Regions from separate parts of the Homo sapiens genome. Here region 2 is linked to region 1. The links come from fine-mapping of genetic effects on gene expression. A gene starts in region 1. The other region holds a variant in brackets. All regions are shown on one strand. Distances are from middle to middle. Region 1 holds the start of ZNF154 (zinc finger protein 154). Region 2 has its middle 9.2 kb from the start of ZNF671.

Evidence for each region. PIP is the estimated chance that this variant, and not a neighbour inherited with it, causes the effect. A credible set is the group of variants that fine-mapping cannot tell apart.
Region 2: its variant is the best candidate, but not a certain one, in a credible set for the expression of ZNF154 in whole blood (TOPMed, PIP 0.82).

What each region holds. Positions count from the first base shown.
Region 1 is chr19:57,706,734-57,711,982 of GRCh38, reverse strand. It overlaps ZNF154 (zinc finger protein 154), which reads left to right and starts at 2,779. Exons shown (of 3, transcript NM_001085384.3): 1 at 2,779-3,044. The coding sequence starts at 3,012. RefSeq lists enhancers at 2,599-2,658, 2,679-2,808, 2,552-3,191.
Region 2 is chr19:57,734,111-57,739,609 of GRCh38, reverse strand. No RefSeq gene overlaps it. Among named protein-coding and RNA genes, the nearest start is that of ZNF671, 9.2 kb to the right of the region's middle. The variant C/T (reference allele first, on the strand shown) is at 2,603.

The sequences.
Region 1 (5,249 bases):
AAATATAGATGTAGAAATAAATTTGTATAGAAATGTGTGCAAGTGGCCGGGCACGGTGGCTCACGCCTGTAATCCCAGCACTTTGGGAAGCCGAGGCGGGCGGATCACGAGGTCAGGAGATCGAGACCATCCTGGCTAACACGGTGAAACTCTGTCTCTACTAAAAATATACAAAAAATTAGCCGGGCGTGGTGGCAGGCGCCCGTAGTCCCAGCTACTCAGGAGCCTGAGGCAGGAGAATGGCGTGAACCTCGGAGGCTGAGCTTGCAGTGAGCCGAGATCGTGCCACTGCACTCCAGCCTGGGCGACAGAGCAAGACTCTGTCTCAAAAAAAAAAAAAAAAATGTGTGCGTGCATGTGTATGTATCTGCTTTCTCTCCAAGAGGACCTAATAATCAATGATTTACCAGTAGAAAAGAGCACAGCTAATGCTTACTAATATTTACAAGCATTGTTATCTATTGAAGAAAACCAGAGCTCCTTGAAAAAGAGGCTGATTCTGGGGCTGGGATAGCAAGGGTACAACATGAGCCTGAAAATATTTTTGGATTAGAAAGTAATGAAATTATCAATAATATTGACATAAAAAAGCAGAGAGCACAGCTTTAATGAGTTCCCACTGTCCAAACATCTGGGAGAATCTGAACATTAAAATAAATGTTGGGGCCGGACGCAGTGGCTCACGCCTGTAATTCCAGCACCTCGAGAGGCCGAGGTGGGTGGATCATGAGGTCAGGAGTTCAAGACTAGCCTGGCCAAGATGGTGAAACCCTGTCTCTACTAAAAATACAAAAAATTAGCTAGGCATGGTGGTGGGCAACTGTAGTCCCAGCTACTCGGGAGGCTGAGGCAGGAGAATGGCGTGAACCTGGGAGGCGGAGCTTGCAGTGAGCCGAGATCGCGCCACTGCACTCCAACCTGGGTGACAGAGCAAGATTCCATCTCAAAAAAAAAAAAAAAAAAAAAAGTACATTACCTTGCTGAGAATTAAAAAGAAAATTTTATATTCGAGTGCTATTTATTTTGCGGCTCCAAAACTTTATAACAAAGCAGCAGAGATTTCTCGGCCAGGCTCGGTGGCTCATGCCTGTAATCCCAGCACTTTGGGAAGCCGAGATGCGTGGATCACCTGAGGTCAGTGGTTCGAGACCAGCCTGGCCAACATGGTGAAACCCCGTCTCTTCTAAAAATACAAAAATTAGCTGGGTGTCATGGCGTGCGCCTGTAGTCCCAGCTACTTGGGAGGCTGAGGCAAGATAATCGCTTGAACCCAGGAGGTGGAGAGGTTGCAGTGAAACAAGACTGCGTCATTGCACTCCAGCCTGGGCAATAAGAGTGAAACTCCATCTCAAAAAAAAAGAAAAAAAAAAAAGAAGAGATTTCTCACCTATATACCCTGAGTGTCTCTGCAGCCAGCAAAGCAGATGAAGGCCTGCTGGGTTGGAGCCCTAGGCCCTCCAATGCTGAAATGCCCTGTGAAGTCTCCATCCATCCAGGCACTCTAGTAACCTGCTTCTTCTGCCTGGAATTTATTCTAAAAATACCCACATGGCTCATTTCTCACTTCCTTCAAGTGCATTTCACCGGCTTTCTGATTAAGAAGTCCCACCTCTCCCCTTTGTCTCTTATCAAAGTAGCATTTCTTTCATTGTTTTTTGAGATTGATGTTAGACTTCTAGAAGGAATATATCTCAGATATCAAGTAAGAATTATGAAATGGATAAAAGCGTTGCTCAGTGAATTGGACACAGTTATTGACTGGACACAGTAATTGGACACAATAATTGACTATGCAGGCAAAAGATGTTTTCTGTTGGAATCAGACAGAATTCTACCTTTGTACTACTGTTTCAAGGTGATCTAACATTTCTCTTCTATCTTCTAGAAGCACTATCATGCCACTATCTGAAGTAGTTTTTCACCTGTCCCTGACCAAAAGTGCACAGACTGACTTCAATGCTTCGGAGTGCATACATTTGAAATGTAATATGATAGAGGCTGGGTACGGTGGCTTACGCCTGTAATCCCAGCACTTTGAGAGGCCGAGGCGGGCAGATCACCTGGGGCCAGGAATTTGGGACCACCATAGTGAAACCCTGTCTCTACTGAAAATACAAAAAATTAGCCTGGCGTGGTGGCGCGCGCCTATAGTCCCAGCTACTTGGAAGGTTGAGGCACGAGAATCGATTAACCCGGGAGGCGGAGGTTGCAGTGATCCCAGATGGCGCCGCTGCACTCCAGCCTGGGGGACAGAGGGAAACTTTGTCTTAAAAAAAAAAAAAAAGGAATAAACTTATATGGTAATGTTTATTAGCTTCCCTACTAGTGGATATATTTCGTGTCTGAATGGCTCTATGGAATGATGTACATATTTGGATTGGCAGCCTTAGGGAGCGTCTGATAATAATTTTAGCCTCTGGGAGCCTGCTGAACTTTATGAAGTTTGAAATAATATTCCCCAAACACTTGGGTGATCAGTTGCAGATGGCACCTCTAATATGCTGTCTGATTACGACCCATTTAAGAAAGGGCGAAGTCCCTCCACTGCCCTAGGACTTGGATAAGCCATTTCTCATCGCCCAGCGCCCTGGAGCTTCGCTTTTACTCCAAGAGGTTGGTGCAAAGGGTCCCCGGCACCCACCTCGGGATCTATGAAAACTACATTACCTAGAATGCTCTGCGTTGAACGCCACGCTACTAAGCCAGTAAGAGCTCAGAAAACCGACTTTCCTTGAGAGTCACAAAAAGAAAGGACGGGACTTTTGGGGGGGCCTCTTCGTGGCGGCCATTTTAGCTTCTCTGAGGTGTGTTCACCGGATCAGAGATAGCAGAGCGCCGAGTTGGGGCCACGAAGGCGTGAGGGGAGTCGTCGTCCCTCCTGCACGAAAGCGTCTAAGCCTTGGCGACGCCGCCCTGGGGGACCCACGTCAGGCCTGGGATAGGGACCGCTGTCCCCGGGTCCCTACCAATGTCGCCCGTCGCTCCCGGCCCAGCTCTACCCGCAGAGTCTGATGGCAGCGGCCACTCTGAGGACGCCAACTCAGGTGAGTGCGGCGTCTTCCCGTCCTCACACACCTTCCCCCACCCACGTTCTAAAGCCATCAGTGAGGGGCGCCTGCTCGAGTCCCCGCTGCCCAGGGTCGGGGACACTGAGGCGTTCGTGGGTGGGGCCCTTTTTTTGACACTGCGTGTGACGAGGTGTGGGAGAGCGTGACAGGCGGAGGAACCGGCGCGTGCAAAGGTTGAGGCGCGACTGAGCCAGGAGAATTCGGAAAGCTGTTTTCTGCAGGGAACGAAGAATATGAGGCGGAGTTACTCCTAGGGTTGTACTGTCATTGTGAGGATGCTAGAAGCCACGGAGAGTTCTGAACAAAGGAGGGACGCCATTTATGTTAGTTTTTTTTTCTTTGAGACGGAGTTTCGCTCTTATCGCCCAGGCTGGAGTGCAATGACGCGATCTCGGGTCACTGCAACCTCCGACTCCCGGGTTCAAGCGATTCTCCTGCCTCAGCCTCCCCAGCAGCTGGGATTACAAGCCTGCAGCTGGGATTACAACGTCCGGCTAATTTTTTGTATTTTTAGTAGAGACGGGATTTCACCATTTTGGCCAGACTGGTCTGGAACTCCTGACAAGTGATCCTCCTGCCTCGGCCTCCCAAAGTGCTGGGATTACAGGCGTGAGCCACCGTGCCCGCCCTATGTTAGGGTTTAAAAACTTTTCCAAAGACTGTTCACAGGAAGAGCAGCGATGGGGCGATGAGGACATTGAGATAGTGGGAGGCTACATCTTTTTTTCATTGCCCTACAGTTGGCAAGAGGTGACAGCACTGAGACCAGAAAGTAAAACAGCCAGCCTGAGTTCAGGGCCAGGCAGGGCTACAGGGAGGCTTGAGCTCATCTAGCCTCACCAGGGATGCATTCCTCTTTCCCTGGTTCTCCCAGTTGTAGAAGGGCGTATGGAACTCACATAGGGAAGTGGAGAGTGTTCGGTCCCTCAGTAGCCTCTACCCCCATGTTCTTGGGATTGTGGTTTCCTAGTATTCTTAAGTGCTGTTACCCCAATCCTGGGTCTGGTGCCCTGGAGAAATTCCAAGCCCAGGGCTCTTAAGTCCATGCCAGAGGTTACAGGGGTTATACTGAGGTGTTCCCATTTTTGTCAGCCAGTGGAAACTTGTGAAAGGTTATCTCTGGCACTGGTATCAGGAGGCGCAAGTGCTTAGTAAAACTAAGCTGAGATTTTTGAGGAAACCATAGATCTGTTTCCTTTTAGCTGGGAACAAAGAGCAGGGGGAAGGAGTCAGGACTGCAGTGGCTGCCTGAGAAGTTGGGTACCTATTCTGGAGGTAATGAGAGATTTGGGTTACAAGAGGGAGGTGATCTTACCAAAGTCCTAACAGGGTCCATCCCGTTAGCGTGGAGAGCAGACTGTGGGGTTGAGGGAAGAGGAAAGAAGATCAGAGTGGAAGCTACAGCCAGTCCAGGGTAATGGACCAGAGTCATTGATTAGGAGATGTGTTGCATTCTGGATGCAAATTTTTAAAGGGAGCAACTAAATTTTCTGATGTAGACAGCGAGGGAGTGAAACAGGATTCAGCGATGACCCCATGGTTCTTCAACTGAGATGGAGAAGTTGGTATTAACAGTAATATTCACTGGAGACAACAGGAGCTTTATTTGGTCATGTAAGAGTTTGAGATGTTTCAGAGACATTAAGTAGGCATTAAGTAGGTGGCTGAACACCCAGGTCTGGAAATCTGGGGAGTGCTTCAGAATGGAGACATCCAAAATGTGGTGGTCATTGTGTGGACTAAGGTGAGTGAGCTGTGGATTACATTTAGAAGGGTTGTTCTATTTTTTTTTTTTTTTTTTGAGATGGAGTGTCTCTCTTGTTGCCCAGGCCAGAGTGCAATGGCGCGAGCTTGGCTCACCACAACCTCCGCCTCCCGGCTTCAAGCAATTCTCCTGCCTCAGCCTCCCGAGTAGCTGGGATTACAGGCATGCGCCACCACGCCCGGCTAATTTTGTATTTATTTAGTAGAGACAGGGTTTCTCCATGTTGGTCAGGCTAGTCTTGAACTCCCAACCTCAGGTGATCCACCCGCCTCAGCCACCCAGAGTTCTGGGATTACAGGCGTAAGCCACCGCATCCGGCCTACAAGGGTTAATCTTTAGGCATGGTGGTACAGGTTATTTGGCCAGGAAGGGCAGAATGGGGGCTAAGGACCAAGCCTTTTGGTTGGATAAGTGGG
Region 2 (5,499 bases), 28 kb before region 1:
TTTTATTCATGTTTCTGAAGTGTCTTTCCTTTCACTAATGGGAGAGGAAGTATTAACTCTTTCACTCATCAAACACAAGTTAGTAAAATACCAGAGACTCAATTTGCAAATCATGCCCCCAAAAAGACAAAAATGCATAACCAAAAAATGTTATAAAGACACTAAATGGCCACTCAAATACTTTAAACAGTCTTCTTCATTTCCCACTGGTAAAGATCTTACAGTGGACTTTGTGAGGCTTAATATTTTCAGTCAGTAATGGAAGGAAGAATATTCAAAGAAGGTTTCAGAGGAAATATAGAGGAGAGGCATAAGGCAAGGAGAGGAGGTTGCACCATGTCTCCAGGTCCCTCAGAGTATGTCTCAACCTCAGAGCAGAACTGGTTCCTTCTGATTGTAACACTCTGTAGGGACCAGCCCCACAGGGTCGGTGGGTCTCTCCCTGTGTGCGGTGACGAGAGAGTGTAGAAATAAAGACACAAGACAAAGAGATAAGAGAAAAGGCAGCTGGGCCCGGGGGACCACTACCACCAATGCGCGGAGACTGGTAGTGGCCCTGAATGTCTAGCTGCACTGTTATTTATTGGATACAAAGCAAAAGAGGCAGGGCAAAGAGTGTGAGTCATCTCCAATGATAGGTAAGGTCATGTGGGTCATGTGTCCACTGGACGCGGGGCCCTTCTCTGCCTGGCAGCCAAGGCAGAGAGAGAGAGGGAGAGAGAGAGACAGCTTACACCATTATTTCTGCATATCAGAGACTTTTAGTACTTTCACTAATTTTGCTACTGTTATCTAGAAGGCAGAGCCAGGTGTACAGGATGGAACATGAAGGTGGACTAGGAGCGTGACCACTGAAGCACAGCATCACAGGGAGATGGTTAGGCCTCCGGATAACTGCGGGTGGGCCTGACTGATGTCAGGCCCTCCACAAGAGACGGAGGAGCAGAGTCTTCTCTAAACTCCCCCCGGGGAAAAGGGAGACTCCCTTTCCCGGTCCGCTAAGTAGCGGTTGTTTTTCCTTGACACTAAGGCTACCGCTAGACCAGACTTCCCAGATGCTGGCATCACCGCTAGACCAAGGAGCCCTCTGGTGGCCCTGTCTGGACATAACAGAAGGCTCGCACTCTTGTCTTCTGGTCACTTCTCACTGTGTCCCCTCAGCTCCTATCTCTGTATGGCCTGGTTTTTTCTAGGTTATGATTATAGAGCGAGTATTATTATAATACTGGAATAAAGAGTAATTGCTACAAACTAATGATTAATGATATTCATATATAATTACATCTATGATCTAGATCTAGTATAACTCTTGTTGTTTTATATATTTTATTATACTGGAATGGCTCATGCCCTCGGTCTCTTGCCTCAGCACCTGGGTAGCTTGCTGCCCACAACACTCACCTGGGAATAGTTGGTATTTACTAATTCACATTTACAAAACCGTGGCTGGAGTGTCAGCATTCCTGCCATGGGGAAAGTGGATATTTGAACCCTGAGAAAAGATTCTGGGTACAATAATCTCACCTTCTTGCTGGGAAGGAACTATCATTTCAGCAGTAAGTACAATGATAGTTTCGGCATGGGGACTGGAGATTACCTCTGGAAAACAGCTTGGACTGAGAAAATTAGTTAATATTGTGGATAAATGAAGTTACCACTGAGAATGACATAAGTAGCTAGAAAAGTTTCTGTGAAGTCTGAGAACACATAAATCTCAATGGATAGTGAGCAGAGGACATGGGGCTGTAAGTTCTGAGATAATTAAGTGGAGCCCATGGCTATCCTAGAGACTTGACTAACATGAAATTCTTATTTCTACAAAGTGTGTATTATTTCAATTTCTGAGAACTCAGGAAAAACCAACTGAGAGCCAAGGAAATAGTAAGGTAAGACTAGAAAGATGTCATAGAACAGAAAGAAAGCGATGGTGGCATCATATTGATTCAATGTCTTGGAATCTGCATCTTGTCACCTGGGGACACATTCTTTGATACAAAATGGAGGACCAGCTCATAGCTCCTGTGGTATTGAAAAACAAGTACTCCGGCCAGGCGTGGTGGCTCACGCCTGTAATACCAGCACTTTGGGAGCCCGAGGCGGGCGGATCACGGGGTCAGGCCATCGAGACCATCCTAGTCAACATGGTGAAACCCAGTATCCACTAAAATACAAAAAAATTAGCCAGGCGTGGTGGCGCACTCCTGTAGTCCCAGCTACTTGGGAGGCTGAGGCAGGGGAAATCACTTGAACCTGGGCGGAGGAGGGTGCAGTGAGCCGAGATCGCACCACTGCACTCCAGCCTGGTGACAGAGCAAGACTCCATCTCAAAAAAAAAGAAAAAAGAAAAAAAAAGTATTCCTTACAGTAAAGGAATGATATCACTGAAGAATATATTAGGTTCAAATATGTCTTTGTTTTACTTTTTCTTATTTCTTATTGAAATGGAAATAGAAAAAAAATTATTTTAGTATCAGGGTAATACCAACCTTGTATGATGAATTTAGAAGTATTTTCTCCTCCTCTTATTTTTGGGAATAGTTCGAGTAGGATTGGGGTTAGTTCTTTAAATGTTTGGTAAAATTCAGTAGTGAAGCCATTGGGT[C/T]CCAGGCTTTTCTTTGCTGGGAAAATTTTTATTACAGCCTCAATCTCATTGCTTGCTATTTGTCAGTTCAGGTTTTGGATTTCCTCATAATTCATCTTGGTAAGTTATATGTGTCTAGGAATTTGTCCATTTTTTCTATAATTTCCAATTTTTGGCATACAGTTGATCATAGTAGCCTCTAATGATCCTTTGAATTTCTGCAGTATTGGCTGTAAAGTCTTCTTTCTCACTTCTATTTTATTTGGTTTATCTTTCTTAGTCTGGCTAAAGGATTTTTTATTTTGTTTACTTTTCAAAAAACCAATTTCTCGGCCGGGCGTGGTGGCTCACGCCTGTAATCCCAGCACTTTGGGAGGCCGAGGTGGACAGATCACGAGGTCAGGAGTTCGAGACCAGCCTGACCAACATGGCAAAGCCCCGTCTGTATTAAAAATACAAAAATTAGCCGGGCATGGTGGTGGGTGCCTGTAATCCCAGCTACTTGGGAGGCTGAGGCAGGAGAATTGCTTGAACCCAGGAGGCAGAGGTTGCAGTGAACAGAGATCCTGCCATTGCACTCCAGCCTGGGTGATAAGAGCAAGACCCCATTTCAAAAAAAACAAACAAAAAACAAACAAACAAAAAAAATCATTTTGTTGAACACATTTGTATTGTTTTCTTTGTTTCAGTTTCATTTATTTCTGCTCTAATCTTTATTATTTTATTTTCCTTTTTTTTTTTTTTTTTTTGAGACAGAGTCTTGTTCTGTTGCCCAGGCTAGAGTGCAGTGGCGTGATCTTGGCTCACTGCAACCTCCACCTCCCGGGTTCAAGCAATTCTCCTGTCTCAGCCTCCTGAGTAGCTGGGACTACAGGTGCCTGCCACTACGTCTGGCTAATTTTTATATTTTTAGTAGAGATGGAATTTCACCTTATTGGTCAGGCTGGTCTCGAACTCCTGACCTCCGGTGATCCACCTGCCTCAGCCTCCCAAAGTGTTGGGACTGCAGGCGTGAGCTACTGCGCCCAGCTATTTATTTTCTTCTACTCACTTTGGGTTTGGTTTGCTCTAGCATCTCTAATTCTTTAAGATGCATTATTAGGTTGTTTATTTAAAGTTTTTTTTTTTACTTTTGTAATGTAGGCACTTATAGCTATAAACATTCTTCTTAGTACTTATTTTTCTGTATCCCACAGATTTTGGCATGCTGTGTTTCTATTATCATTTGTTTCAAAAAACTTTTCTTTTCTTTTTTTTTTTTTTGAGACAGAGTCTTGCTCCATCATCCAGGCTGGAGTGCAGCGGCGCAGTCTCGGCTCACTGCCACCTCCACCTTCTTGGGTTCAAGCAATTCCTCAGCCTCATGAGTAGCTAGGACTACAGGCGCCCGCCACCATGCCCGACTAATTTTTGTATTTTTAGTAGAGACATGGTTTCACCTTGTTGATCAGGCTGGTCTCGAACTCCTGACCTCAGGTGATCCACCTGCCTTGGCCTCCCAAAGTGCTGGGATTACAGGCATGAGCCAATGCGCCTGGCCTCAAAAAACTTTTCAATTTCTTTCTTTTTTTTTTTTCTCTTTGAGATGGAGTCTCACTCTGTCTCCCAAGCTGGAGTGCAATGGCGCAATCTCCACTCACTGCAACCTCCACCTCCTGGGTTTAAGCAATTCTCCTGCCTCAGCCTCCTGAGTAGCTGGGATTACAGGTGTGTGCCACCATGCCCGGCTAATTTTTGTATTTTTAGTAGAGACAGGGTTTCATCATGTCGGTCAGGCTGGTCTTGAACTCCTGACCTCGTGATCCGCCTGGCTCCACCTCCCAAAGTGCTGGGATTACAGTCGTGAGCCATCATGCCCAGCCCAACTTCTCAATTTCTTAATTGACCCACTGGTCATTCAGAAGACGACTGTTTAATTTCCATGTGTTTGTAGCATTTTGAAAGTCCACTTGTTACTGATTTCTACTTTTATTGCCTTGTGGTCAGAGAAGGTACTTGATATTATTTCAATTTAAAAAAGTTTCAAGACATATTTTATGGCCTAACATATAGTATTTCTTTGAGAATGATCCATGTGCTGAGAAGAATAGGTATTCTGAAGCTGTTGGATGAAATGTTCTATAAATATCTATTAGGTCCATTTGTTCTATAGTGCAGATTAAGTCCATTTCTGTCTGGAAGGCCTGTTCAATGCTGAAAGTGGGGTGTTGTCATCTTCAGCTATCACTGTGTCAGACTCTATCTGTCTCTTTAGCTCTAATAATATTTACTTTTATATCTGGGTGCTCCAGTGTTGAGTGTATATATATTTACAAAGATTATGTCCTCTTGCTGAATTGATCCCTTTAGCATTATATATAATGACTTTGTCTCTTTTCACAGTTTTTCTCTTGAAATCTATTTTTCTGATATACATGTAGTTATTCCTGCTATTTCGTCGTTTCCAGTGGCATGAAATATCTTTTTCCATCCTTTTATTTTAATCTATGTGTGTCTTTATAGGTGAAGGGTGTTTCTTGTATGCAATAGAGCATTGGGTCTTTATTTTTATTCATTCAGCAACTCTGTGTGTTTTGATTGGAGACTTTAGTCCATTTATATTCAATGTTTTATTAATAAGTAAGGATTTACTGCTGCCATGTTGTTTGGTGGTCTTCTCTTCCTTCTTTCCTTCCTTCCTGTCTTCCTTATTGTGAAGGTGATTTTCTCTGGTTGTATATTTTAATTTCTTTTTAAAAAATTTTTTGGTATCTGTTGTAGGTTTTTGAATTTAGTTTACCATGAAGCTTCCATGGTAAACTATATCTTATAACCCATTATTTTAAACTGATGACAACACTGATCCCATAAACAAATAACAAACAAGAGAAAAACTAATAAAAACATTACACTTTAACTATGTCACCCAGCTTTTAAAT